7 separate regions of the Homo sapiens genome follow, and regions 2, 3, 4, 5, 6 and 7 are each linked to region 1. A link means that fine-mapping ties the variant in region 1 to the plasma level of a protein whose gene starts in the linked region. Region 1 holds a variant in brackets. A gene starts in each other region. All regions are shown on their forward strands.

Region 1 (4,066 bases):
CATATTGGTGAGGCTGGTCTCGAACTCCCAACCTCAGGTGATCCGCCTGCCTTGGCCTCCCAAAGTGCTGGGATTACAGGCGAGTCCTAAATGCTGGATAGTAGCCCATCAGACATGTTTCCCGCATTCTGCTCTCAGTAGGCACCCAGGCTGCCTCCAGCTCCTTGCTACCCAAACAGCACTGCAGTGAACATCTTCACAGTGCCCCATAATGGACCTGTCAGAGATTCTCTCTGGTGTATGTATCTGGAAGTAGGATTTTCAGGGATCATCTTTTTTTTTTTTTCGAGACGGAGTTTCACTCTTGTCACCCAGACTGGAGTGCAATGGCACAATCTTGGCTCACTGCAATCTCTGCTTCCTGGGTTCAAGCGATTCTCCTGTCTCAGCCTCCCAAGTGGCAAGGATTACAGGTGCCCGCCCCCAAGTCCAGCTAATTTTTGTTGTTACTGTTGTATTTTTAGTAGAGACGGGGTTTCACTGTGTTGACCAGGCTGGTCTAGAACTCTTGACCTGAAGTGATCCACCCACCTCGGCCTCCCAAAGTGCTGGGATTACAGGCATGAGCCACCATGCCCGGCCGATAATATGCATTTTTTTTTTTTTTTAGACAAAGTCTCCCTCTGTTGCCCAGGCTGGAGTGCAATGGCTCGATCTCGGCTCACTGCAACCTCCACCTCCCGAATTCAAGCGATTCTACTGCCTCAGCCTCCTGAGTAGCTGGGATTACAGGCGCACGCCACCATGCCCGGCTTATTTTGGTATTTTTAGTAGAGACAGGATTTCATCATGTTGGTCAGGCTGGTCTCGAACTCCTGACCTCATGATTCACCCGCCTCGGCCTCCCAAAGTGCTGGGATTACAGGCGTGAGCCATCGTGCCCGTCCTGATACTATGTATTCTTAATTCCAGTAAATATCTTGCAGAATGGCTATTCCAATTTATCCTCCCATCAGCAGCTTCTCCCACAACCTTGGCAGCAATTGACTTCCTCTTAATGTTTGTCAATTGGATGGGTGTAAACAGATGGCTCACTCGTGTTTGATTTCTCTAGTTAGTCACTAGTGATTGTAAACATGTCTTCATATGCACATTAGAACCCCAGGCTTCCTCATCTGTGAACTGCTTGTTTATACCTGATGCCACTTTTCCAATAGGTTTCCTGTGTATTTCTTCATCTTGGTCTCCTTCTGTGTTGAATGTCTTCCATTTGTCCTTCCAGATCCACACTCTATCCTTCTCCATGTTGTTCTGTGGCCTGGGAGGCTGAGCTGTATGACTGCATCAAATCGCTCCCTTGCCATCTGGCTTCCAGCCCTCTTCCAGGAAGAGAGGGAAGTGAGGATATTAACTCCCCGGCCCCTCCCTGTAGAGTGGCTGTGGGTTAGCTGCCCCCTGCAACTGAGTATCACAGCTCCTGTTGGGAGGCCCTCTCCCTGCGGTCCTGGAGGTGGTAACAGCTCCCCACTCTGGGATGCCTAGGTTCTTGCTCCATCTTGTGGCTTCCCTAAGCCTGTTCACACCTTTGCAGAGAGTCCCTATATTATGAAATCTTGCACTTACCCATTTTTGGGTGTGCCATCTGTTGCTTGCTGGGAGCCTACCTGATACATTGCTGTTGAACTGAAATTTATCATTTTCATGCAATTTCACAAATTTTTTTTGGCTTTTTGGAATGTGCTTCGGAGGCCTTATTTAACAAGCTCTTCAGCCGGGCGCGATGGCTCACACCTGTAATCCCAGCACTTTGGGAGGCCAAGGTGGGTGGATCATGAGGTCAGGAGATGGAGACCAGCCTGGCCAACAGGGTGAAACCCCGTCTCTACTAAAATTCGAAAAATTAGCTGGGCGTGGTGGCGCATGCCTGTATTCCCAGCTACTCAGGAGGCTAAGAAGGGGAATTGCTTGAACCTGGGAGGCAGAGGTTGCAGTGAGCCAAGATCACGCCACTGCTCTCCAGCCTGACGACAGAGCAAGACTCTGTCTCAAAAAAAAAAAAAAGAAGAAGAAGAAACCCTTCTATACTCTTAGTAGTATAGATTTTTCTTTCTTTCTTTTTTCCTACTAGTTCTGTAATTTTATGTTATATGTTTAGGTCTTCAATCTATCCAACATCCACCTTTGCCTGTGATGTTAGGTATGAATCCAGTTTTACTTATCTTCATAGAGTGAGCCAGTTTTCCCAATAATGTCTTTCTTCTACCAATTTGAGATGTTACCTTTATTGTATATTAAGTTCCCATGTAGGCACAGTTCTGTCTCTCGGCTCTTTATTCTATAACATTGGTTTATCC[G/A]TCTATTCTTGTATCATTACTGTGCTATTTTTATTACTATGGCTTTGTAATATATTTTAAAGTCTAATAAGGCTAGTTCCCCCTTCCTCCAATTTCTCCTTTTTTTCCCATATTGACTTTTATCTTGCCACATATATTTTTTTTAAAGTTGTTGCATTGCTTTTAAAAATCCAATTGAGGTCGGGCGCAGTGGCTCACTCCTCTAATCCCAGCACTTTGGGAGTTTGAGGCAGGTGGATCACTTGAGGTCAGGAGTTCAAGACCAGTCTGGCCAACACGGTGAAACCCCATCTCTACTAAAAATACAAAAATTAGCTGGACGTGGTGGCGGGCACCTGTACTCCCAGCTACTTGAGAGGCTGAGGCAGGAGAATCGCTTGAACCTGGAGGCGGAGGTTGCAGTGAGGTGAGATTACACCATTGTACTCCCACCTGGGTGACAGAGGGAGAATCCATCTCAAAAAGAAAATCAATTGAAATTTTATTTTTATTGCGTTGAATGTATATGTTAATTTGGAAAGAATTTAAGTTTCTTCTTGTATGTTCTTCATGTGTTATTGTGGTGATAGACTAATACACCTGCCGAAGCCTCTTATTAGGTCGAATTGTTTGTTTGTTTGTTGATGGTGTTGATTTTCTGTATAGGTGAGCATATTGTTTTATCTCTTCCTTTCCAATTCTTACAACTTTTAATGTCTTTTTCTGTCTTGTGCAGTTTGGCTACCATGCCCAGGATGATGCTGAACAGCAATAATAGCACTATAACGGAGGCTTCTAATTACCCCTAATACCAATTATCCCCTTCTTGCTACACCAGAGGTCCAGAAACATCTCCTATAAAGGGCCAGATAGCAAGTATTTTAGGCTTACCAGGTCATACAGTCTTTATCATAACTACTCAATTCTGCTGTTGCTGTGGTCATAAATGACATGTAAACAAACAGGCATGGCTGTGTTCCGATAAAACTTTATTTACAGGCCGGGATCCGTGGCTCATTCCTGTAACCCAGCACTTTGGAGGCGAAGGCGGGTAGATCACTTGAGCACAGGAGTTCAAGACCAGCCTGAGCAACATGGTGAAACCCCGTCTCTACAAAAAAATACAAAAATTAGCAGGGTATGGTGGCTTGCGCCTGTAATCCCAGCTACTTGGGAGGCTGAGGCAAGAGGATCACTTGAGCCTGGAAGGCAGAGGCTGCAGTGAGTCAAGATCCAGAGGCTGCAGTGAGTCAAGATCACGCCGCTGCACTCCAGCCTGGGCGACAGAGCCAGACCTTGTTGCAAAAAAAAAAAAAAAAAAAAAAAAAAAAAACTGGCCAGGTGTGGTGGCTCACACCTGTAATCCCAACACTTTGGGAGGCTGAGATGGGCAGATCACCTGAGGCCAGGAGTTCGAGAACAGTCTGGCGAACATGGTGAAACCCCGTCTGTACTAAAAAAAAAAAAAAAAGAAAAAATACAAAACATTAGCCGGGCATAGTGGTGCACGTCTGTAATCCCAGCTACTTGGGAGGCTGAGGCACGAGAACTGCTTGAACCTGAGAGGTAGAGGTTACAGTGAGCCGAGATTGTGCCATTGCACTTCAACCTGGGCAACGGAGAGAGACTCCGTCTCAGAAAAAAAAAAAAAAATAGAAAAAGAAAGCTTTATTTACAGAAGCAGGTGAGGGCCAAAGTTTACTGACTCCTTCTCTACAAAATAGAATCCTGTGTTTTTAGCAAGAATGTGGCCTCATGGAATAAAGTTCATTTCTCAGCCCCATTTGCAGCTA
Region 2 (4,066 bases), not on the chromosome of region 1:
AGTCACACTAGTTAAGCCTTAAGGGAGGGAGGTGAAGGGGGCTGCAGGTGAAGAAACTAAAATGGAGTCTGTCCGGCGCTCTCTCTGCTACGAGAAGGTCACTTAGGTTAAAACAAGGTTGGGTATCACACTGGGAGGCCGAGGCGGGCGGATCACGAGGTCAGGAGATCGAGACCATCCTGGCTAACACGGTGAAACCCCGTCTCTACTAAAAAAGAAATACAAAAAATTAGCCGGGCGTGGTGGCGGGCGCCTGTAGTCCCAGCTACTCGGGAGGCTGAGGCAGGAGAATGGCGTGAAGCCAGGAGGTGGAGGTTGCAGCGAGCTGAGATCGCGCCACTGCACTCCAGCCTGGGCGACAGAGCAAGACTCTGTCTCAAAAAAAAAAAAAAAAAAGTCATTGCCCCAAATAGAAACCCATTCCCATTAGCACCCACTCCCCACTTTCCTTCACAGCCTCAACAACCATGAATCCACCTTCTGTGTCTATGGAGTCACTTATTCTGGACATTTCATATAAGTGGAATCACACGACATGTGGTCTTTTGAGTCTAGCTTCTTTCTTTCTTTTCTGAGACAGGCTCCCACTCTGCGGCCCAGGCTGAAGTGCAATGGCGTGATCGCAGCTCACTGTAACCTCAGTCTCCCAGGCTCAGGCGCTCCTCCTGCCTCAGCCTCACAGCAGAGACCACAGGTGCGCACCACCACACCCGACTATCTGGCTTCTGCCACTTAGCGAAATGTTTCTGAGGTTCTTCATGTTATAGCACGTGTCAGCACGTCACTCTTCTTCATGGCTGAGTAATACTCCACTGCGTGAAGAGACACATTTATCTGTCCCCGTGTTGGGCATCTGCACTCTTCCCACATTTTGGCTATACTAAATTGTCCTGCTACGAACACCTGTGTAGTTTCTGTGTAAAGGTACAGTACCTATATGTTGGGGTGATCAGACCCAACCCCAGGTCGTGGGGGTGACAAAGTCCGGCGGAGTCAAAGGATTCAGAAAAACACAGAGAGAGAAAGGTGGCACACCAGGGGGCCATCGCTATTGTGGAGGCTGCAAAAGCCCGAGCTCTGGGAGCCCACGGTATTTATTGGTAATGCAACAAAGAAACAGATGGTGAGAATATGGAGGTCAAAAGACCACGTTGCATTAAGCACATGATTACAGCTGTGCCGGTTTAGCATTTATATGGAGCATGTTCTGCTACTTGAGATAATGGGAATAGGGGCCTAGGAGGGCTAGAAGGAAGGAGCCAGCAAGTCTAGACACATTCCAAAGGACATCATGCAAGCCCTGCCTCAGTTTCCCTCCCAACACCTATATGTCTTGTTGGTATACATGTTGTATTTTCACAACGAAAATGCATGAGAAAAAGGACACAGATGGCTTATGTGTACTGATGTGTAGCATTCTCTAAGATCTGACATCACAGAGCTGGACAGCACAGCTGTGCACGCACCCCCCTGGCTGGGAGGTGGCACATCCACACATGAGGGAAAAACACTGCCAGGACATCTCAGGGCACTCTCAGGAAATGAGGAAGCTGCTGGAGAAGTTTCTAGCCTTGGGGGAGGTCAGGACGCAGAGCCATCTCCTGGAGCAAAGTTCCCTCCTCCTCTCTCCCTCCTCCTCTCTCCCTCCTGCAGCCCTTCCTTCCGACCCCTGGCCCTTTCTCTCCAACCTTCCCCTCCCCTCCTCCATTTCCCTCCTCTTTCTACTTTCAGAGAACACAGGGTTCCTGCAGGAAATGGGGCAGTTTCACCTTCCTGAGGAGGGGCCTGGGAGGGGCAGCAGGTGGCCGGGTAGGGCCAGCCCAGCTGTGAGCCTGGCGTGGGAGCTGCCTAGGCCGGGCCCTGCCAGGGAGCAAGTCTGCATCGCAGAGGCCAGGGTGAGTGGGCTGGGGAGTCGGTGCGCCAGGGTACTGGGGTGCCCACCTGGGGTGGTGCAGGCCCGGGGACCCCAGGGCACCACTGTGGGTGGAAGCTGGGACCAGGCGTGCGGGGCAGGGGACGCGGCGGCTTCCTGGGATTCTAGGAGGCTGAGGCCAGGTGTGTGCGGCAGGGGACGGGGCGGCTTCCTGGGATTCTAGGAGGCTGGGACCAGGTGTGTGGGGCAGGGGACGAGGCAGCTTCCTGGGATTCTAGGAGGCTGGCACCAGGTGTGTGGGGCAGGGGACGCGGCTGCTTCCTGGGATTCTAGGAAACTGGGGCCAGGTGTGTGGGGCAGGGGACGCGGCTGCTTCCTGGGATTCTAGGAAACTGGGGCCAGGTGTGTGGGGCAGGGGACGCGGCGGCTTCCTGGGACTCAAGGAGGTGGGAGAGCTGCTCTCAGACCCGCCGCTGTCCTCCCACTGGCCCTCCCCGTGGTCCCTAGGATGAGGTCTGGACCCGCCAGGCCCTCCAGAGGCCCCACAACCCCGCTTGTCCACTGTGCCGGCTGTTCCTTCCTTGTGGCGCCCAGTGCGGTCCTAGGCACCCTTGGGACTCAGCTCACGTACCCCTTCCTCCAGGAAGAGTTCTCAGAGGCTGTGTGAGGAGCGCCGAGTCCCCGGACTTACTCTCTGTTCTGGAATTCTCTGCGCAGTCATCTGCCTTCCCGCCCAGCTAAGAGCAGGGCCTGTTGTCCGGCCCCACAATTTCCTTCCAGGTGGAAAGGATTTGCTGAATGAAAATCAAAGCTGTGGCCGGGCGCGGTGGCTCACGCCTGTAATCCCCACACTGTGGGAGGCCGAGGTGGGCAGATCATGAGGTCAGGAGATCGAGACCATCCTGGCTAACACGGTGAAACCCCGTCTCTAATAAAAAATACAAAAAATTAGCCGGGCGTGGTGGCGGGCGCCTGTAGTCCCAGCTACTCGGGAGGCTGAAGCAGGAGAATGGCGTGAACCCGGGAGGCGGAGGTTGCGGTGAGCTGAGATCGTGCCACTGCACTCCAGCCTGAGTGACAGAGCGAGACTCCGTATCCAAAAAAATAAAAGAAAAATCTTCTCCCCGGGTAGGGTGCGGGGAGCTTCAGGGTTATCACAGGACATGCTAGAGAGAAAGCCTTGGGCACAGGCGGAAGTTGGAGTCTGGAGCTGCGGCTGGGCTAGCGAAGGGCAGAACCTACTTCGGCCAATGGCTCTTACACAGCCAAGCTATTTTCATGGTGAGGGTCTAGTAGCCTCCACATCTCTTGGCGAATTCTTGCTGATTGGCGTCTGACCCCATGGAGAAGCTCAGTGGGTGTCATGGGTGGAAGGGGGCATCTAGGGCCTCCAAACGTGGAAGTGTCTCTAAAATACCTCCCGCTGGGCCTCAGTCTCCTTGTCGACAAAAGGTCAGCTTTGACAAATCTCCAGTCGGAGGCCAGGAGCAGACGGGGAGGGTCCCTCAGTCCCTGCTTGCAGCTTCAGGGGGACGTAGGCTGCGGTGGACGGACACTGAGCCCCAAAGCGGCCTCTCAGAGCCGCCCCTGAGGGGTGGCCTCACAGGTCGGGCTGAGGCTCCCAGCTCCCACTGGGTACAGAGCGGGCAGGCGGGCCTGGCAGGGCAGTGGTGCTGGTCTACACGCAGCTCTGGAGTCTCTGGACCTGTGTCCTGTGCGTACATCCTGGCTCCATCTCCCATGAGCCAGGGGGCTGGACCTGTCTTCTCTACCTCAGTTTCCAAGAGTAGGAGACAGGGGTAACAGCAGCCTTGCTCTCAGGGGTGAGGGCGTGGGTTAAAGGGCAGGACACCCATGGAAGCAGTGGTGGCTCCGAGCACCTGCTCAGCCTTCCCAGGTCTTCAGAGCCCACAGGCAGAGCCCACCCTGAGGGAGGAGCAGCTGGTTCTTGGGTGAAGTGAGCCCCCAGGACCCCGCCTTGCAGGACCCCGCGAGGCCCCGGTGAACTGGAGCCGGGAACCGGCCCCACGGAGGCACGTTGGGATTTGGCCACCAGAGGGCAGGAGCTGCAGCAGCCAGGCAGGCGGTCAACACGGGGGCCCCGGGGTCCTGGCCGGCTGGTGGGGTGTGAATTGGAGAGGAGTGGGCTGTGTGGAGGGAGACCAAGCACCAAGGCCCGCCCTGGCCTCTGAG
Region 3 (4,066 bases), not on the chromosome of region 1:
GCTGGAGTGCAGTGGTGCAATTATAGCTCACTACAGCCTTGAACTCCTGGGCTCAAGCGATTCTCCCACCTTGGTCCCCCAAGTAGCTGGGACTTCAGGCATGTGCCACCATGCCCAGCTAATATTTTTTATTTATTTTTGTAGAGACGGGGTGTCCCTATATTGCTCTGCCTGGTCTTAAATTTCCGGACTCAAGCAATCCTCCTGCCTTGGCCTCCCAAAGTGTTGGGATTATTGTTGGGGCCAGGCGCAGTGGCTCACACTTGTAATCCCAGCACTTTGAGAGGCTGATGTGGGCGGAACACCCCGTCTCTACTAAAAATACAAAACTTAGCTGGGCATTAGCTGGACCTGGGAGGCAGAGGTCGCAGTGAGCCGAGATTGCACCACTGCACTCCAGCCTGGGCTACAGAGTAAGAGACGCCATCTCAAAAAAAAAAAAAAGCTTGTTGGGGCCGGGCGCAGTGGCCCATGCCTGTAATCCCAGCACTTTGGGAGGCTGAGGTGGGCGGATCGCCTGAGGTCAGGAGTTCAAGACCAGACTGGCCAACATGGTGAAATGCCATCTCAACTAAAAATACAAAATTTGCTGGGTGTGGTGGCGTGCATGTGTAATCTCAGCCACTCGGGAGGCTGAGGCAGGAGAATCACTTGAACCCAGGAGGCGAAGGTTGCAGTGAGCCGACATCGTGCCACTGCACTCCAGCCTAGGCAAAAAGAGCGAAACTCTGTCTCAAAAAAAAAAAAAAAATGCTTGTTGGGGCCCAAGTTAATTGATTTCACAACTGCTGCCTTGGCATGAGATTGAGATGCGTCTCTATATCTCTGTCTCTGTCTCTGTGTCTCTGTCTCTGTCTATCTTTGTATCTCACACACAAATGTCCAGGTCTGAGCTCTGGGTCAGAACTGTGGTCCATTCTTTGCAAACTGAGGGTCCCCACTCTCCTGAGCCATTGGCCACTTGCCCACACCACTACCCAAGACCAGTCCCACCTCCGGACACGTCGACTCACTGTACACGGTGATGTTAGAGGAGCCTGTTATCTGAGAGCCATTGCAGTACACTGAGCAGAGGATCCGACTGTTGCCAGTCACGTTGCTGAGATTGAAGGCTGCCCAGCCCATGCCACTGGCCACCAGCTCCTTTGATAGGGACGTCTCCAAGGCGATTTTCTCAGAGCTGGGACAATCAGTACTGCAGTTCACAAACAGGGACCCTCCAGCAGAGAGCACAGGGTTCTGGGGCTCCACCCGCAAAAGGAACTCCTGCCCCTGGACACCTTCAGGAACATGAAGAAGTCCTGGTGTTTGTTTCCTTGTCCCCCAACCCACGCATCAACAGGCCCCACCATTTAACACCTCTCTCCTTGTGCCGAGACAGAAGGGTTCCTGCCTTCATGGTCCAGTGGGAAAGGTAGAATCCATCAGAGACCGGGGAGAACTCAGAAGGAGGCCAGAAGAGGCTCTGATCCAGCATAGGAGGAGGTGAGTCAGGGAAGGCTTCCTGGAAGCGGGGACCATTGCAGCCCGAAACTGAAGGCTAAGTAGGAGTTAGCAAGTGAAAGGGACAGGTGATCCTGGCAGAGGGAAGCACATACGCAAAGGGCAAATTTCAGGAGTTCAGATGGAGCAGGAAGCATGAGGGGTGTGTGTGTGTGTGTTAGGGGAGAGGGATGGCGTACAAGCCTATGCTGGGGCCTGACCACCTGAAGGCTGAACTAAGGAACCAGAACTTTCTCCCGAGGATACAGAGTCAGCGGCCAGGTCGCAGTGTGGCAGGATGTGAACAGCGTTGCGTTCTATTCCTCTACCCTCTACTGATCCCCAAAACGCAGCCCTCTCCAGCCCTCCCCGGCTTGACTGGTCTCACCTGGGGTCAGCAGACAGCAGACCAGCAGAGTCCAGCAGGCCCTGGGCCACAACACGGATGGTACCATGGTGGCCATTCTGACAGAGGAAGGTGCCTTCCTGAGGTGCCCGAAGGGCAGGCAGGGGAAAAGGCGGGGCCTCCCACTGCGACGGAAGCACAGCGGTTAAGATTGCAGAAGTCTGGGGACTGCACCTTGCCCAGGCCTGTGGGTGGAAGGGGATGCTGTGGCCCTTGGGGGCCAGGGTGGGGGACCCAGACGGGGCTCTGCAAAGTGGCCAGCACTGCTGAGTCTCCCCCAGGGAATGGGCTGGTCCCAGTTGCACTGCTGGCCCCCATTTGAATTCACAGGAAATGCTAACTAAACTGGTTTCTTTTGTTCTCAGCACTGGGAAGCCTGGGTGGGGGGGATGAGGCATCTCCTTCTGGCTGAACTTAGGTGGGTAGGGGAATATTCTGTCCCCAGAGAGGAAGTTAATGGGGAAAACTGTAGGCACCATTGTGTAGATGTTAAGGTGGGATTTCGAGGAAACATTAAAAAACAAAAACAAAAACAGAAACAGAAGCAGAGTCTTGCTATGTTGCCCCGACTGGTCTTGAACTCCTGGCCTTAAGATGGCCTCCTCTCATCTTGACCTCCCAAAGTGTTGCGATTACAGGCGTGAGCCACCACGCCTGGCCACCTTTGAAGATCTTGAGGATACCTCCCTATCTTTGAAGATCTTGGGGATCCCCCATCCCCTGCACAAAGAGCTAAGGTAGGTGATTTGGGGACAGCTGAGTCCCTGAGCCACTGTCTATCCAGGATTCTACTTGGTTTTTGTTTGTTTGTTTTGAGACAGAGTCTCACTCTGTCACCCAGGTTGGAGTGCAGTGGCGGGATCTCGGCTCACTGCAGCCTCTGCCTCCCGGGTTCAAACGATTTTCCTGCCTCAGCCTCCCGAGTAGCTGGGATTACAGGCATGTGCCACCACGCCCGGCTAATTTTTGTACTTTTTGGTAGAGACGGGGTTTCACCATGTTGGCCAAGCTGGTCTCAAACTTCTGACCTCAAGTGAGCTGCCCGCCTTGGCCTCCCAAAGTGTTGGGATTACAGGCGTGAGCCACTGCGCCCGGCCTTCCAGGATTCTACTTGTAACTGGCCTTTACCCCATCCTGTTGTCCCCTTGCCCACCCTTCCAGGCAGCTGGTCACTGCATTCCAAGGGAAGGCGCCAAGGGGACCAGGTGGGACCCCCACCTTTGACCTGCCTCTGACCTCAGGCCTCTGACCTGCCTTCTGGGCTTCACATCTGAGCTCCAGAGAGAGAGGCCTTGTTGAGAGCCTTGATGGGGCCCTGCACTCACCCACTTTCCCCAGACCTTGAGGTCACAGCACCTCCTCTCTCATCTAGAGCACCCCCACCTTCCTAAGCAGGTCCCTCCTCTATTCCTCTACCTTCCGAACAATCCATTTCCCACCTGGTGTTGAGAGAGCAGCTAAAACCCAAGTCTAGTGTATTTGTAAACAGCAGGGACCAGTAGCATGGGCCTGGTGCCTGTAGTCCCAGCTCCTTGGAAGGCTGAGGTGAGAGGATCGCTTGAGCCTGGGAGGTCAAAGCTGCAGTGAGTCGAGATTGTGCCCCTGCACTCCAGCCTGGGAGACACAGTGAGACCCTGTTTCCACAAAAAAAAAAAAAAAAAAAAAAGATGTCGGACTTACTGGCTCACGTCTGTAATCCTAGCAGCACTTTGGGAGGCTGAGGTAGGTGGATGACGAGGTCAGGAAATCGAGACCATCCTGGCTAACACAGTGAAACCCCATCTCCACCAAAAATATAAAAAATTAGCTGGGCATTGTGGCGGGCACCTGTAGTCCCAGTTACTCAGGAGGCTGAGGCAGGAGAATCACTTGAACCCAAGAGGCGGAGGTTGCAGTGAGTGGAGATTGTGCCGCTGCACTCCAGCCTGGGTGACAGAGCAAGACTCTGTCTCAGAAAAACAAACAAACAAACAAACATATATATATAATTTATAATACTTACGTAATAGTGAGACCCTGTCTCTAAAAATAAAAAAGAAAGAAATATTTGTAAATAAGTCATATTTCTTTTTTGTTTTTTGAAACAGAGTCTCACCGTGTCGCCTAGGCTGGAGTGCAGGGGCACAATCTCAGCTAACTGCAATCTCAGCCTCCTGGGTTCAAGTGATCCTCCCACCT
Region 4 (4,066 bases), not on the chromosome of region 1:
ACAATATATACCTTTTTTGTGTGTATGAGACAAGGTCTCATTATGTTGCCCAAGATGTTCTCAAACTCCTGGGTTCAAGCAATCTTCCCACCTCAGCCTCCTGAGTAGCCAGGATTACAGGTATGTGCCATTACAGCCAGCTTTCACAGTGTATACTTGATGTACTATTAATGTACTATTTAATGACTACTAAAAAGTTTATGATAACAGGAGAAAATGCTTATGCTATCTTAAATAAAAATTTGAGTGTATGCATTGATACCAAGAAATGGAAATTTGAGTGTGTACACTGCTACCAAGAAACTGAAAAATGACATCCCATACCTTTAATATTTAATATTTATAACAAATGAGGTTTACATGGATTTTTTTATCTCATCTTATTTCTGATGTGTTATGTAGTTATAAATACTATTTTATTTGCACTCCTGCTCTGCAATAATTTTGAAGATAGATAACTTATATTATTGCTGTCTTCATTTTTTAAAATTCTCAAATCCAGATGAAATTATCAAAGTTGATAAAATAATCATTGTTCTATCTTCTTATTTGAAGATTAATAATTGTGTTGATTTTGCTTCCTTGCTCTAGTTAGCAGTGATGTCATCTGCTATTTTTAAACTTCCTTGAAATAATATATGTAATCTACTTCTAATAAGTTTTTCTTATTTAGCATTTTGGTCTAAACTAATTTATAATTATTTAGCCTTATTTCTCCATGTTTAACTTGCTTTAAAGCTCAGCACTGGTGTTTTCAGCCATGGCTTCTCCATTTTAAGGCTATTTTAATTCATTTATTATTCTGGAATATATCCTTAAATAATTTATTTAGGAAGGCTGTCTTGGTGGTGGTATTTCTGTTGCAGTTGTTGTTTTCTTGCCTGCTTGGTGACATATTTCTATTGACTTGACACTTAACTGGCATCTTATCTAGGTAGATAATGCTAATTCAAAATTCTGCAGATATTGTTCTGTTGTTTTTTGCCATTTAGGGTTGAGTAAGATGCCAAGTTGTTTTTTGTTTCTCTGTAGTCATTCTGTTTTCATTTTGTTTTTAGCTTTGCCTTTGGAATTTAAAATGTTCAAAATGATTTGTCTGGATGAGAATCGATTTTCATAACTTTTGCTTTGATACACTAAACAGTTTGAGTTTCTAGATGATGCCCATTTTAATTCATACGAGGAAATATCTTCTAGTATAGTTTCTGCTTGATTAATTCTATGTTTGTCTCTTAGGGACATCTATTAATTTTATAATGCTGCCTTTTTTTCAGACTTCTGTTTCAGAATATTCGCTTTCATCAATGTAATCCTTGGCTATAGTAGGAATGAAATAATAAAAGCAGTAGCTTCTGTCTGCCCTCCTTGGTTATGCAGTCCTTACAGAACATCTCCCCATCTCCCATCCCCCCACCCCAGCTCAGTGAAACTCTCCACACTTTGGTTGTGGAAATTGGCAGGGTTAGGTGGCTACTCACTCCCAATCCACATCCACAATAAATCACTTTTTATTATCTTATCAAAATCTGTAGAATGCCTCTTTATTCTATTTTGTTGCTGCGGAGGTTTGTTTTCTCTTTCTAATTATTTTATTTTCTAGGTTTTTTGAGGGAATTTCAAGAGGGGAGATTTTTTATTCAGGCTCATCTTAACGTCATGTCTGGAACTCAAGCTACTGAATTATATATTCTTTAATACATATAGACCTACGTCAATGAGTTTAAACTGCAAGGAAAGGGTTAAATTTCTTCCTCAAGTGTGGTCAAAATCTGTAGAGAAAAGAGGAACAGCTTCTCTTAAAGAAAGTTAGCTGGGTAGGTATACAGTCATTGCCGAGGAAGGCTTGCACAGGGTGAAAGCTTTGCTTCTCTGCTGCTGTAACAGGGACTAGCACAGACACACGGATGAGTGGGGTCATTTCCAGATATTAGGTCACAGCAGAAGCAGCCAAAATGGATCCCCAGTGGTGAGTAATAATTCTTATTCTTTGCAGAGAAGTTATGAGTTGTGACTGCAGTGAAAGGCTGAGGTTGAAGATGGTGCTTTGATGTGTGTCCTTCACTTAGTTCCTAAGTGGAGAAGCTTTCTTTTTCTACAAAAGATCTTTGGCACATAAAGGCAAGAATTATTTGCAATGCCCAAAGCAGTTCATTGGTGGTAGTTATATATATTTTTAGGTGCCTAATTTTGGTTTTGTAAATCTGTTATTCAAATACTGAATGTTACAGTCATTGATTTTAGTGAAGAATCAGGAATTTTTAAAATATCTGCATAAGAATGACAAATAACAGGGAATATGTTTTTTGTCTACCAGGGTCAGTTTGGTCTGAGGGTGGAGGAATGAGATAGAGAAGGTAGAGGGAGAGAGATCAAGAAAAAGAAAGAGAAAAAAGAGGTATAAGGAGAAAATGCAAAACTCAGTTAATATGTCATAATCAGGCCATGGGAGATTCTGGGCAGGGTTGGGTAGTGGAAGGAGGTAGAGTGATTAAATTAGTTACCATGTATTGAACATGCATGATGTGCTGGGTACTTTACTAGTGCTATTTCATTGAATTTTATTCTTCACAATGACTTTTGGAAAGACATCATCATTCTTTTTGACAGATGGGGTAACTGTGGCTTAAAAAACTTGCCCAAGTTCACACTATTCATAAGGGGTAGAGCTAAAATCTTTCCTGCCCGCTTCGTGGTGCGCCAGAAGGTTTCTCCATGCTGTGGAGACTTCCTGGAAGGAGTCACACCCGCCCTTCTCTTGGGTGGTGGCAGCTGGCGCCAGTCACTATGTATTTATTTATTTTTAATTATTTATTTTTGAAACAGAGTCTCGCTCTGTCGCCAAGCTGGAGTGCAGTGGCGCAATCTCAGCTCACTGCAACCTCCGCCTCTCGGATTCAAACGATTCTCCTTCCTCAGTCTCCTGAGTAGCTGGGACTACAGGCGCCCACCACCACGCCCGGCTAATTTTTGTATTTTTGGTAGAGACGGGGTCCACCATGTTGGCCAGGATGGTCTCGATCTCTTGACCTTGTGATCTGGCCACCTCGGCCTCCCAAAGTGCTGGGATTACAGGCGTGAGCCACCGCGCACCCGGCCGTCACTATGTATTTATAATTACTGTTCTTTGAAAATCGAAGTAACTTTCATCTACCCAGTGCTTACTGGTTTGAGAAAAAGCTTTGTTGCTTTTATTTCAGAAGATTAAAATTTAATTTTCCAGTAAAGATTCCTTTTGCTCCAGTGGAATTTTGAAGCGTTATACTTGTATGAAGAAAAAAAGAATTTCAAAATTTATAATTTTTGTGGTACCATAGAGGGGATACTACTTAATTATGCTAGCACTGTCTGCAGAGGTCTAAAAAACCATAGGCTGCTGTCTATATTGAACTTGTTAAGATTCCTTTTGTTTCACAGTGCCTGAAGATTGGTCATGAACCAGTAATAGCCATTAAACAATGTCTGTTCTCATAAGAGATGAAATAAATACAAATTAAAACAACAGTGAAGTATCATTTTTTCTCTATCAAAGAGATAAATATTAAGTTTTAAAAAGCAAGCAATCAAGAACCCTCTATCTTGCTAAGAAGGGAGGATTATTTGTACCCTAGTTGCGCACTAGTGGTGATATCATCTTTCTGGACAATAATCTAGTGATACATATCAAAAGCCTTTAAAATGTATATGCCCTTTAACCAAGCAATTCACCTTTTAGGAATTTATTCTAAGATATAATAATACATGTTTGTAAAGTTTTAGTGATGGATATTTTTCTTGCTATTGTTTCTAATAAGGAAAATCTTAGAAACAATTTACGTGTTTAAAAACAAGTGATTGGATGATTATGGAACATCCATAATGGAATACCATGTAATTATTTAAAATTCCACTGTAGAACAATTCATAATGTGTTTAGTTAAAGGGGAAAAATGCAGAACGAACAGTGCTATCACTTTTATACATGATACATGTATACAAACAATATTAATCAGAAATATAGGTAGTTTGTATTTTCTACTGTGTGCTTTTCAATTTGAATCCCATCTGTAGGCAGAAAAATAAAGTTAAA
Region 5 (4,066 bases), not on the chromosome of region 1:
AGTTGCTGGGCATACAGGCGCACACCACCGCCACACCCACCTAATTTCTTGTAGAGATGGGGTCTCACTATGTTGCCCAGGCAAATCTCGAACTCCTGGACTCAAGCAATCCTCCCACCCTGGCCGCCCAAAACGCTGGGATTACAGGCATAAGCCAGGGTGCCTAGCCTGATGATTCAAGAAAAGGAGCTGGGCCCTTTCTCAGTTAGTTAAGGCAACCTACCATTTGATTACATCAAGACCTTTGTTTAATTACCTACCTCATGCTAAAAGGTAAAATAAATGGAGTATTGCACAATGACTTAAGATTTAATCTGGGAATGGACTCTGTGAGGCATATAATAATCAGATGTGTTAGAAGCACCTGAAACATAGTAGTGGATAGTAGTGGATCTAAAGCTGTGAAAAAGGAAATGATGATAGTTCTCACTCCACTGAACTAGGATCAGTGTTCCCATGGACCTAGATGTGTTTCTCTCCACACCAAGACTGTCAATCCAGGTTCATTGTCCCAAGAGACTCCCCGACTACTGCTTACCATCCACCACACTTGTTTCACTTGTTTCAAAGATATAAACCTTGGCCATGCCATTAATAAGTGGGCAGAAAAGAGTTTCTGAAGGGAGACTGGGACTTGCCTCATTATAAATGCTAACAGTAACAAACTTTTATTTAGTCTCTCTCTTCCTCTTAAAACACACACACAAGGAACCAGAGTGTCTGTAGGATGAATTCCCAGGCCATAGCAACTGCAATGTCCTGAGATCTAAGCAGTTCTTGGCTGGCCAGGCGTTAAGCCCTTTTGGGGAAGGAGACAGCAAGCCTGCTTTTCCCTTACACAGCCCTGTCGTGAAAACAAGCTCTTGTTTCTTGGGGGTTTTTTTGTTCGGTTTTTAGCTAAGAATTTCCATCCCTCCTGCAGTGATAAAAGATAGGCAAGGGAAGCTCAAGGGTTTGATCTCAAATTTTCTTCCACCTAACTTGCCCCTTCACCCCAATATTTGGAAATAAAGGGAGGGAATTTGGGGGAAGTTGAGGGTAAGTTTTTGGTCAAGATGATTGACCCGAGATGTGGATGCAGCTTAGACGATGAGGGAGACTGCACCACCCTGCAGGGTCACCTGCCTAGCCACAGGTAAACGAGGGATCGGAAAGACTGTAGAAAATTCATCTTCCTTCACACACATCTCCTTCCCCCTCCCCCCATTCCAGTGCCGGCGCGCTGGCTGGCTGGAAGCCGGCGCTTTGGAGGCGCCGGAGAGTGGGTCTAAGGGTGATATTTCGGCATACAGAACCTGAGACCCCACCCGAGCCAAGAGGGAAGAGAGAGGGTAAAGGGATTGAGGAGGGGGCGGCTTGCGCCCTGCTCGGGAATGCACCGCGCGACAGCACCCGGAGGTCTCCGGTGTCCGGCGCGCACCGGTACCACTGTCTTCCACTGCGGTAGCATCCCGACATGACATTGCAGCTGCAACAAAGCGCCGGCCTCGGCCGGCCGTGGGAGCCCCACACCGCGGCGAGGCCCCACACCACGCAGAGGGGCAGTGGCCGATGGGTGGGGGGCTGTGGCTGCGGGCGTGGGGAGCGCGAGGTAGGCCGAGTAGGGGGAAAAGCCCTCAAATGCGCAGAAGCTGGGCGGCTACCTCTAGCGTCTCCTCCAGCAAAGCCAGACTGCAAGGAAAACAATTCGTCTTCATTCCCCAGCCCCGGCTGAGCCCTGAGATTCCCCCAAATAACCTAGTCGAGGCCCTCTGGTGTGTTGCCTTCCCTTGGAAACCCCTCAGTGCCCGTAACCCAGTCGGCCGGGCCCCGCGCCTCCCTAAGCCCCGGCCCGGTGACCCGCCCGGCTCCCGGAGAGCGGTTCCTTCTGCTCCGGCGCCGCCGCCACCCCCGGTCCACGCAAGCGCTCACCAGGAGAAGGGAGCCCGCGATCATCGTGGCTGTGGCTCGGCGGGCGATGCGGCTGCAGGAGGCGAGGGCGGTGCTGCTGCTCGGAGAGGTCCCCATGGCTGAACCGGGGACTCGCAGGGGCGCCCGGGGCGCGCGGGGCAGCTGGAATCGGCGGCTGCTTCTGCCCAGCGCCGCATCCACCGCCGCCTCCCGGGCCGGGAGCCCATCTACCTCCAACACCCCATGTGCACTGCTGCGGCCGGGCAGAGGAGGGAGGCGGCAAGGGAGGCTCTAGGGGCGCTCAGCACCTGCCCAGCGGCGCGGCCGCCCAGGCGGGGAGAAGCCGCCGCGACTGCAGCCCGCGTCTCCGGGTGCTCTCCTCCGACAGCGGCTGAGGAGAACCAGGGAGGAGGACTGGGCGCGAGAGAGCAAAGGAACGACTTCCCATAGCGAAGCTTCCAGCCACTGCCAACCACCCTCCTCCGCTGCCCAGACTGGTCGGCGAGGGACTGAGTCGGTGGCCACCGGGCGCAGGGACACACGTGGTGGCGCCGAAGGGGCGGGGGACCGGCCCTTTGTGATGTCACCCGGGAGGAGGCCGGGCTCTTTGTGCGGTTGGAAAGGCGAAGGCGTTCCAGGTAGAGCGGGGAGGGAGAGGGTGCCCCTTGGCGTTCGCTGAGGAAATTGCACGCGCCTGTTGACCCAGGGAAAGCGCTGAGAAAGCATCTCACTCCTGATCTAACTTTACTTATTTTTTCCGAGATAATTCCAACTAAATTATTTCAGCTACATACGCCTTTCCATTGTTTCGGACACGATGATTAAATCAGAGAGCGATGGTGAATAGACCACAGAGCACTTAGATCAACTGCGTGACGAAAAAGGAGACCTGTGTGTTGCTTCTCAAACTTTGCTGCCCTGTGGAATCACCTGGAGAGTTCAAAACATATATATTGATTCTTGGGTCCCACCTCTAGAGACTCTGATTTAATTGGAACAGGACAGGATCTGGTCTGGGCATTGAGGTTTGTTGTTGTTGTTGTTTGTTTGTTTTTTAAGTTTTCAGGGTGATTTTAATATGGGGCAAAGATTTTAATTTTTTATATTTTAATTTTAATATGGGCTTATGAATGCAATTAAGGAAATCCAAACTAAAAGGATTTAAAACCCAGAGTCATTGGTGTTGGGTCCATGGATGGTCTTGGAGGGACTTTTGAACTCCTTGAAATGTATCAAAAGATGCATTTTCCTAATTTAAAAATCAAGAGTTTTGAATCGGATTATCCCTGAGATTTTTTTTAATCACCCTTCCCCCAAAAAATAATGCTAAAAATTTTTGAGTTGATTTCCAAAGGCCTTGTCAGGATGTGGGTGGTAGAATAGGTAGTATTCTGCTTCAGAAGGAGAACTGGAATATTCTCGTGGATGTTGGTATCTCACACACTTCTGAATGTAAGAGAGCAGCTGTTATCCTTTTCTTTGTTTCACCTGGGGGAAGGCCGAGTCTCCTGACTGTGGCCACCATTTCTGGTATCGTGTTATCCATCATCTAGGTACTGACAGCACATGGCACACTGTATTGATATTACCTCTTCAGCCATCCAGTCCACACCCCTCAATTGGGAGCCCTATGGTGCTGGGCTTATCCTAGGCTCCTTTGGTCCCATTTCAAAAGAATCACACTTTTTAAACTATCAGTTTCAAGATCCAACACCCAGTGCTAATAAAGGTAACTTGCTAAGTCATAGGTACCAATTATTTGCTTTATTAGTTAACATGTTGTCCTTTGATTCTTTGCTCTATGCACACTTTGGTAGAAGCTAAAATTAATATGAGGGTTAATTCCAATCTATTATTTCAAACATTTGTCAGTATTGTCTATAAATGTTAGAGTGGGAAAAAAGCTACAATATATAACCTCTAGTGAAATTCAAAGGAGTTCTAGAAAATATTACCATTAATTATGGAGTTTTGGGGAAAGGATGATGGTTGGACTTGCCACTCTCTAGCTATTTTCAGAAGTTGAAAGAGTGAGGGATAGATGCTGTGTTTTCATGCATAACTGTATCAATTTTTTCTTCAAAAATTCAAATGACTGGCCAATACTATTATAAGGTTGGGTTGTTTTTTTTTAAGAAGTTACATAGGTATTAAAGAGGAGGAGGAGCTTCAAATA
Region 6 (4,066 bases), not on the chromosome of region 1:
TGATTGCAGAGATTGCAAGAATTAGGGAAATCCTGAAATTTGTGAAGGAGATAAAAACAGGACTGAAGCAGATGTCGATGGGAACCAAGAGGTTAGTGATTGAAAAGTTAGTGCATTTTCACTGTAGTTAGTTGCTGCAGTGAACTTTTCCACCTTGGATTGTGGGGCAGGCAGAATAAATTATCAAGGCAATAAAGGATCTTATTTTAAAGGATTCTTTTGGTAGTTCCTAGCACACAGGGTCAAAGGAGAATAGAGAAGTGTGACTCAGAGCAGGGTTCATTTCCAGGTCCTTGCTGTAGATAGGATGATGCCATTCACACTCTGAGAAATCTCTTCCCATCGCTCTCCGAAGGAAGTCTAAACCAGATGGTAACTTAGCTTAGCTGCAAAGAAAATAAGAGCCACCAACAATTTAATGTTTTTCAAACTGCCTGGACAATCTTTTCCTTCCTCATACAGGCACGATAACAGAAGTGGCCGGTGGAGGGTGGCCCATTGAGTGCCCATGATGCAGTCCAACCAAGAAACAAAGTTCTCTGCACACCCCTCGCCCAGGCAAAAAGAGAAAGTAAAAGCAACCGGTTGCTGCCAAGGGGTGTGGTGTGGTGGGGCTGGCACTACCCTGAACATCAATGAAGGCTGTCTGTTTCTGGTCCTGCTTCCGCAGTGAGAGGCAGCAGGTCCCCAAGCAGGCGACCTGCCCTTCACCGTGAGGCTGTCAGCCTTGGGGGAGCGGGGTCATTTGGAGCTGATAAACCAATGAGAAGAAAGGTTTGTTGCTCTAGGCGGTGGGTGAGGGCATCATAGCTGACTCTTGGTCTTGGTCACTTTCGGAGGAGATGGTTTATTTAACCTGACTTCCTTCCTGATGCGCACCGTAGGCGCAGTGAAATCCGGGAATCGTGGGGAATCCTTGGCGCTGTGGGTGGAGGCTCCTCTTGGCCCTGTGGCCAAGGTGACCAAGGGCCGAAGGAAAAGCGAGAACGGGAGGGACGGGACGCAAGAGGGCAGATGGGGAACCCCATACTCCAGCAACATTATATAAGAGAGGCGACGATGGAGCAGCGCACCCGGCCAAAAAAGCCTCCGTGCGCCTACTCTACGGTGCACCGCGTCCCCTCTGCACCAGAAGGGCCCTGTCCTCCCACATCCACCGCGCCCTCCTCCGGGCCCCCGAGGGCACTGGGGCGCTTCCTCTGCCAGACCTCCCCTGCGACTCACTCTTCCGGCTCCAGAGCCCCCCCGCCCCAACAGCAAAGCAGCCGTGACCTGCCCCAGGGGCGCAGCCCTGCCCCAGGCTGGAAGGCAGCAGAGCTGTGGCGTCGAGGCACCCAGCGGACTGCGGGGCTGGCGTGCCCGCGGTTACCTGCGCGGCCAGAGGGCTCCGCGAGATCGAAGAACCAGAAGAGCAGCATGAGGAGCCCCGCCGGGCGGCGAGGGGTCGCCCAGCCTGTCCTCATCCTGAGCTGGCGCAAGCCTTCCGGCCGGGTCCTCGGGCGCACGCGGCTCCCGCCCCGCCTGCTGAGCGCGGCCTGCCCCGCCCGCACCTCTGTCTAGGCCTCTGGGGGCGCCCCGGCCCCGCCCCCGCCGCCCTCGGCCAATCAGACGTGCGTCTCCTCGGCCCCGGGGCGGAGCGGGCCAGGTGTGGGAAATGAACAGGGCTGGGCGCTAGATACCTGCGTGGGGTAGGACCCGCGAGGAAGAGGTACGTGCGGATCGGTGGGAGAGCCAGGCACCAGACAGGCTCCTGCACTGGAGGGTTCGGTCCCCGCCTCTTCATCAGCCAAGCTGGGGAGATGCGGCCCTTACTGGGACTTGGCACCGCCCTGGTGGGTGGGTTCTATCAGTTTAGAACCTTGGCCTCTGCCTGGCGCACTGTGGTCAGGGACGACTTCTCCATTCCAGCCTGGACTGGAAAGGGACCCATGATCTCTTCTACCCCGGAGGAGGAAGTGAGCACCTGCCCTGTGGGTGGCTGCGGCCAAGCCTAAGAATTCAGTCGTCCTTGGCAACGTCTTGGGTATTTTGACAGTGCAAACAAAGGTGGAATAATGGTACACTGCAGTTCTACCCATAGTTGTTAAAGAATTAAAAGCAAGAATTACTAGAATGACCAAACGACACTTCCAAGGATGACTTATGCTTTATAAAAAGTTGACCTTTGCGAGTAAGCTCTTTGCTTAATAATTTAATGATAATAATAATTAGCTGGTAGAAATGTAGAAGTCTGCATGCAGAACCAGAAATTTCATGTCCCACTCACTCTCTTCCTGTGGACACTGCTATCATTATAAAGAGGCCAAATTCTTAATGACCTAAGTTGCTCAAATGTGAATGTTTTATACTTTTAAATCTCGTCTTTGCTGAGCACATAATGTGTACTTGAGGTGGCCTCCATCCTTGTTGCATGAGGATGCAAAGACCTAGGTTGCTCTTCCTGACTCCCACTGCCAAGGTTTCACAGTTGGCTCCCAAACCTGCTCTGTCCTCTCCCCAGGGTCTGGCCTTTCAGTTCCATAGATATAGTGAGCACCTGCCATCACAGGATCTGGGCACGCCATGGAACAGAAGGACAAAAAGACAACATCTCTGCCCTCCCCTGAATACTGGGGAGACTGAGGCACTGTGATGGATAATATTGTCAGCTCGATTGATATGAACGAATGCAAAGTATTGTTCCTGGGTGTGTCTGTGAGGGTGTTGCCAAGGAGATTAACAGTGGACTGGGAGAGGCGGACCAGCCCTCAGTCTGGGTGGGCACCATCTCATCAGCTGCCAGCATGGCTAGAATAAAAGCAGGCAGAAGTTGGAAGGACTTGACTGGCTGAGTCTCCTGGCCTTCACCTTTCTCCCGTGCTAGATGCTTCCTACCCTCGAACATCGGACTCCAGGTTCTTCAGCTTTTGGACTCTTAGACCTATAAAAGTGGTTTGTCAGGGGATCTCTGGCCTTCGGCCACAGACTGAAGGCTGCACTGTTGGCTTCCCTACTTCTGAGGTTTTGGAACTCGGACTGGCTTCTTTGTTCCTCAGCTTGCAGACAGCCTATTGTGGGACTTCACCTTGTGATCATATGAGTCAATACTCCTTAATAAACTCCCTTTCATATATACATGTATCCTATTAGTCCTGTCCCTCTAGAGAACCCTAATACAGGCACACTCAGTGACACAGGGCAGAATGAATGGGGAAACTCTGACAAATGTTGAGGGAAGGCAACATCTTAGCTGGGTCTTAAAGAATGGGTAGGAATTTGAGCAGGCACAGCTGGTGGGAGAAAACCAGTGACAGGGCAGAGGCCAGAAAATGCAAGCAGAGTCAGAAGACAGTCCAGAGTCCAGGGTAGCTGCCCTGCGGGGGGTGTGTCTGTGAGAGAGATCAAAGTGGTTGTGGTGGGGGCCCCAGTGGAAATGACAGCAGAAAGGTGAGTTGTGTCTGTTTTGTGAAGGGCCTTGAATTTATTCTAAGGCACAGATGGTGGGAAGTTCTGAGTAGGAGAACCTGCCACTGACCTGATCCCCTCTGCCTCTGTGGCTGCCTGCCTTTCTTTCTGATCCTGCCCAGCTTGGAGCTCCTTGAGGGCAGTGGTCTTGCCGTATTCATTATCACATCCTCAACACTGGGCACAGGGCCTGTCCCAAAGTCAGCTCTCAATAAATGTTAGTTTAATCGATGGATGGATTCCTAGGGCCACCACCTTAGCCTAGGGCCATATGAGCTCCTACTTGCATTATATTGCAATAATTTATCAATTGACCTCACTGCCAACAGTTATTATCCTCTCTGGCAAATGAATCCTTCTAAACACTGTTTGGAACATGCCACTTTTCTACTCAAATCCTTTCAGTGCTATTTGCATATAGCAGGAGCTCCTAAATGCTACTTAAGGGAAATTATGAAACCCTGAAATTTTATGCAGCTTTATAAATGCACTATGTTTTGAGGAGGAGGAGGAAGGGTACAAGGCTTTCATGAGAATCCCAGAGAAGCCCATGATACAAAAAGAAAACTCTAAGACAAAAAGCAAGTACCTCTACAATTTGACCCTTTCTCTTTCTTTGAGA
Region 7 (4,066 bases), not on the chromosome of region 1:
TTAAATAACTTACAACAGATATTATTTACTGGAGACTTAATTTGTTGTATATCAAATGAGGATGCAGCTACCTCTCTATTAGTAAGGATGAATGAAGAGTTATCTAGATACTATTGTGTGTAGAGATTTGACAAAGGTATGGTGGCAAGTACTAATATGTCCCAGGGATCAACGGTTTGCTGGATGCATACTACACAGAGTGATATGGAAAACCATGTAGCTGGACCTAAAGTTTAATTTTCTCTGTACACTCCACTCATGTTGTCTGGAAATATTATGTCTTTGGGCCATATTTAACTGTGAGAAGCAGATTTTTACATGAAAGAAAATGTTGATCCATATGATGAGCCTCTAAAAAAACTTGCTTCTGCCCACACTGAACCAAATGGCAGCATGAATGGAAAAGAAGTTTTTTCTGCACTGGTTCATAGAACATGTGTTCTCCCTTTTGTTTCACAGGAAGATGCTGCATGGTTCTTGTTTTGGAGATGTCATTGACACTGTGCAAATCAGTGTACTAGGTGCCAGGGGAAAATTCTATAGTCATATTTCTTTTAAAATTTCCAATATGCTACCATGATACATGGCAAATTCCCAACTTTTCACAGCTCTAAAGCCAGACAGCATGTGTGTGTGTGGTGAGGACATGAGGCTATGGATGGGGAGTATCTTAAGGGCAGGAATCAGGTCAGTGGCATCTCTTCTCAAGCCCCACCTATACACAAAGGCTCACTGTAAGAATTAAAGAAAGAGGAAAGAAACACGAATGGTGGCTCACCAGTCAAGACAGATTTTAGAGAAAACAAACCTGAGAGGAGTTTCTGGCCGAGTTAAGTCAGAGGCACACTCTCTTACAGACTAAGAGTTTTTAAGGATTTAGGGTGGGAGAGTTTATCAGAGACTTGGACTGCTTCTGAGTCTCTTTGTTGTGCTTATCTGGGAGAGAGAGGTGTGTGTCTGTACCCATACATCTTTCTGCAGCTACAGGCATACCCACTGAGTCTGCTTTTAGCTTCCCTATCTTAGTGCACCTGAAGGGAAAGGAATTTGCTTATTAAGGCCCACTGTTTTACTAGGGCCATTGTATGAGGGTGAAGTTTGGCAGTAACTCAAGAGACTCTCCCCCTACCTCCCTCTGTGCCCGAGCTGTCTTATCTGTGTTTCACTGTCTGCTCTTTCTGGTTGCTTGTAGTTAGCAGAGAAGTGATTTCCTTGAAATGCATGAGGCTAGAAAGGAAATTGGAACTTAAAGAGGCAGTGTTTCTCCGAGATGACGGTGCTCCTGCTCTGTCACTCACTATATCTTTAGTGAATGAATGAATAAATGAATGGCTGCCACCTTCACTTTACCTAGGACTCTTCTTTGTTTCTCTGCCCCAGACACTCACACGGACCCTATAGAATCCTATATCCTGCTGGACTAAACACCCCATGGATCTAGGTGAGGCTGCGACTCGGGCCAGGCCAGCAGTGATCAGCCCTGGTGTAAACAGTTGTGCACAGAAAAGCACCTCAGAGTGGAAGGACTTTAGACATGGGGTTCGCATGTCTCAGATGGCCCTGAAGGTACTGATCCAGGCTCTGGTGCTCCTGGAAGGCAAGACTCAGATTCTGCTCCATCTCCTCCCATCTCTGGGCGGGTCTCTGGCATCTCTGGCCCATGAGGGTCAATCTGTGTGGAGGGGACAAGCTCTGAGCATGTGTGGGTCTGAGGTTCCTCTTCCATGCAGGGCTGAGGTCTCCTGCTCCTCCCCAGCTTCCTGTCCGGCCCTGTAGTCCTTCCCCTCCACTCCCTTCCTCTTTTCTGCTCACACAGGAAGCCCTGGAAGCTGCTTCCTCAGACATGCCGCTGCTGCTACTGCTGCCCCTGCTGTGGGCAGGTGAGTGGCTGTGGGGAGAGGGGTTGTCGGGCTGGGCCGAGCTGACCCTCGTTTCCCCACAGGGGCCCTGGCTATGGATCCAAATTTCTGGCTGCAAGTGCAGGAGTCAGTGACGGTACAGGAGGGTTTGTGCGTCCTCGTGCCCTGCACTTTCTTCCATCCCATACCCTACTACGACAAGAACTCCCCAGTTCATGGTTACTGGTTCCGGGAAGGAGCCATTATATCCAGGGACTCTCCAGTGGCCACAAACAAGCTAGATCAAGAAGTACAGGAGGAGACTCAGGGCAGATTCCGCCTCCTTGGGGATCCCAGTAGGAACAACTGCTCCCTGAGCATCGTAGACGCCAGGAGGAGGGATAATGGTTCATACTTCTTTCGGATGGAGAGAGGAAGTACCAAATACAGTTACAAATCTCCCCAGCTCTCTGTGCATGTGACAGGTGAGGCACAGGCTTCAGAAGTGGCCGCAAGGGAAGTTCATGGGTACTGCAGGGCAGGGCTGGGATGGGACCCTGGTACTGGGAGGGGTTTAGGGGTAAAGCCTGTCGTGCTTAGCGGGGGAGCTTGACCAGAGGTTGATCTTCTCTCAGGCCCTCACCTGGACCCTCCCTCCTGATTCTGCATCCCCTCTTTCTCCTCACTAGACTTGACCCACAGGCCCAAAATCCTCATCCCTGGCACTCTAGAACCCGGCCACTCCAAAAACCTGACCTGCTCTGTGTCCTGGGCCTGTGAGCAGGGAACACCCCCGATCTTCTCCTGGTTGTCAGCTGCCCCCACCTCCCTGGGCCCCAGGACTACTCACTCCTCGGTGCTCATAATCACCCCACGGCCCCAGGACCACGGCACCAACCTGACCTGTCAGGTGAAGTTCGCTGGAGCTGGTGTGACTACGGAGAGAACCATCCAGCTCAACGTCACCTGTAAGTGCTGGGCCAGGATGCTGGGGTCCCTGAGGGTGTAGGGGAGACAGGATGGGCTGGTGCTGGGGACATTTAGTGTCCTGGAGGCCTGGCTGAGTTCGGGAGCCAGAAGGACATGAGCCCTGTCCCTTCTGCATTTCTGTGGTTTCTGGCAGGAGTAAGGGGAAATGCCTACCCTTATCTCATCTCTACCCCCAACTGAAGGAAATCCTCTCTTCCTCTCCTAGATGTTCCACAGAACCCAACAACTGGTATCTTTCCAGGAGATGGCTCAGGTAGGAAGGAGCCTCCCCGCCTGGGGCTGTTACTGACATTGAGTCTGTGTCAGGTTTGGTCAGATCTGGACTTTCAGAGTCAAATGTTCAGAGGCAAGGCCTGCAGTTAGACACGGGTAGACATCAGGCACCTTGGAAAAGGATATTTGGGGATGACTAGCAACTTCCCCCTTGCCCATCCAAATAATGCTCTTTGTCTCCCTCCTGTCTCTGAATGTCTTGGGGTATTTTATTTTTAATTGATATGTAATAATAGTACATATTTATGGATGGCATAGTGATGTTTCCATACTAATAATGTATAGTAATCAGATCAGGGTAATAGCATATCCATCATCTTGAACATTTATTATTTCATTGTTGTTGGGAACATTCAATATCCCCTTTCTAGCTATTTGAAGCTATCTATTATTGTTAAGCATAGTCATCCTACAGTGGTATAGAACACCAGAACTTATTCTTCCTTTCCAGGTGTAATCTAGTATCCTTTAACAAATCTCTCTCCTTATCATTGTTCCCCTAACCTTCCCAGCCCTTATTATTCTCTGTTCTACTTTTTACTTCTATGAAATCAACTTCTTGTAGCTTCCACTTATGAGTGAGAACATGTGGTATTCAACTTTCTGTTCCTAGCTTATTTCATTTAACATAATGTCCTCTAGTTCAATCTATGTTATAGTGAATAACAAGATTTCATTATTTTTTATGGCTGAATGATAATCCATTGTGTATATACGCCACATTTCCTTTATTTATTCATCTGTTGTTGGACACTTAGGTTTATTTCATATCTTCCTATTGTGGATAATGCTGCAATAAACATTGAGGTGCAGACGTTTCTTCAATATACTGATTTCCTTTCCTTTCTATAAATGCCCAGTAGTGGGGTTGCTGGATCATATGGTAGTTCTATTTGTAGTTTTTTGAGAAACTTCCATACTCTTCTCCATAGTGGTTATACTAGTTTACATTCTGGTCAAAAGTA

Alleles and levels. Positions count from the first base shown, and alleles are read on the strand shown. Strength reflects both the effect of a copy and how common the allele is.
For the plasma level of the protein whose gene starts at base 1,818 in region 2, G is the low allele of the variant in region 1 and A is the other (moderate association).
In carriers of allele A in region 1, the plasma level of the protein whose gene starts at base 1,956 in region 3 tends to be higher than with G alone (moderate association).
For the plasma level of the protein whose gene starts at base 1,825 in region 4, A is the high allele of the variant in region 1 and G is the other (moderate association).
In carriers of allele A in region 1, the plasma level of the protein whose gene starts at base 2,401 in region 5 tends to be higher than with G alone (moderate association).
With allele A in place of G in region 1, the plasma level of the protein whose gene starts at base 1,537 in region 6 is higher (moderate association).
For the plasma level of the protein whose gene starts at base 1,805 in region 7, allele G in region 1 goes with a lower level than allele A (moderate association).

Evidence for each region. PIP is the posterior inclusion probability: the model's chance that the variant is causal. Protein levels are from antibody-based Olink assays in UK Biobank. Linkage for the fine-mapping came from a reference panel and not from the study's own genotypes, which makes the PIPs less certain.
Region 2: it holds the start of DPEP1, and the variant in region 1 is fine-mapped to the plasma level of the DPEP1 protein (UK Biobank, PIP above 0.99).
Region 3: ICAM3 starts here. The variant in region 1 is fine-mapped to the plasma level of the ICAM3 protein (UK Biobank, PIP above 0.99).
Region 4: CD86 starts here. The variant in region 1 is fine-mapped to the plasma level of the CD86 protein (UK Biobank, PIP above 0.99).
Region 5: it holds the start of TNFRSF21, and the variant in region 1 is fine-mapped to the plasma level of the TNFRSF21 protein (UK Biobank, PIP above 0.99).
Region 6: LY75 starts here. The variant in region 1 is fine-mapped to the plasma level of the LY75 protein (UK Biobank, PIP above 0.99).
Region 7: CD33 starts here. The variant in region 1 is fine-mapped to the plasma level of the CD33 protein (UK Biobank, PIP above 0.99).

Annotation. Positions count from the first base shown.
Region 1 is chr17:7,163,799-7,167,864 of GRCh38, forward strand. No RefSeq gene overlaps it. Among named protein-coding and RNA genes, the nearest start is that of ASGR1, 14 kb to the right of the region's middle. The variant G/A (reference allele first, on the strand shown) is at 2,295.
Region 2 is chr16:89,611,825-89,615,890 of GRCh38, forward strand. DPEP1 (dipeptidase 1) reads left to right here and starts at 1,818. Exons shown (of 11, transcript NM_001389466.1): 1 at 1,818-1,895. RefSeq lists a silencer at 1,418-1,576 and enhancers at 2,982-3,686, 3,687-4,066.
Region 3 is chr19:10,337,669-10,341,734 of GRCh38, forward strand. ICAM3 (intercellular adhesion molecule 3) reads right to left here and starts at 1,956. Exons shown (of 7, transcript NM_002162.5): 1 at 1,871-1,956; 2 at 1,014-1,280. The coding sequence starts at 1,946. RefSeq lists enhancers at 562-1,310, 1,596-1,695, 1,916-1,965, 2,059-2,806, 2,807-3,554.
Region 4 is chr3:122,053,538-122,057,603 of GRCh38, forward strand. It overlaps CD86 (CD86 molecule), which reads left to right and starts at 1,825. Exons shown (of 7, transcript NM_175862.5): 1 at 1,825-1,966. The coding sequence starts at 1,953. It also overlaps a transcript of ILDR1 not described here.
Region 5 is chr6:47,307,505-47,311,570 of GRCh38, forward strand. It overlaps TNFRSF21 (TNF receptor superfamily member 21), which reads right to left and starts at 2,401. Exons shown (of 6, transcript NM_014452.5): 1 at 1,912-2,401. The coding sequence starts at 2,007. RefSeq lists enhancers at 1,352-2,074, 2,238-2,417, 2,369-2,663 and a silencer at 1,868-2,097.
Region 6 is chr2:159,903,220-159,907,285 of GRCh38, forward strand. LY75 (lymphocyte antigen 75) reads right to left here and starts at 1,537. Exons shown (of 35, transcript NM_002349.4): 1 at 1,370-1,537. The coding sequence starts at 1,463. LY75-CD302 (LY75-CD302 readthrough) reads right to left here and starts at 1,537. Exons shown (of 38, transcript NM_001198760.1): 1 at 1,370-1,537. The coding sequence starts at 1,463. RefSeq lists enhancers at 449-498, 549-598, 819-868, 1,009-1,088 and silencers at 1,269-1,728, 1,498-1,739.
Region 7 is chr19:51,223,276-51,227,341 of GRCh38, forward strand. CD33 (CD33 molecule) reads left to right here and starts at 1,805. Exons shown (of 7, transcript NM_001772.4): 1 at 1,805-1,880; 2 at 1,943-2,323; 3 at 2,528-2,806; 4 at 3,034-3,081. The coding sequence starts at 1,844. All of the region lies in intron 2 of LOC107985327 (a long non-coding RNA gene), which reads right to left.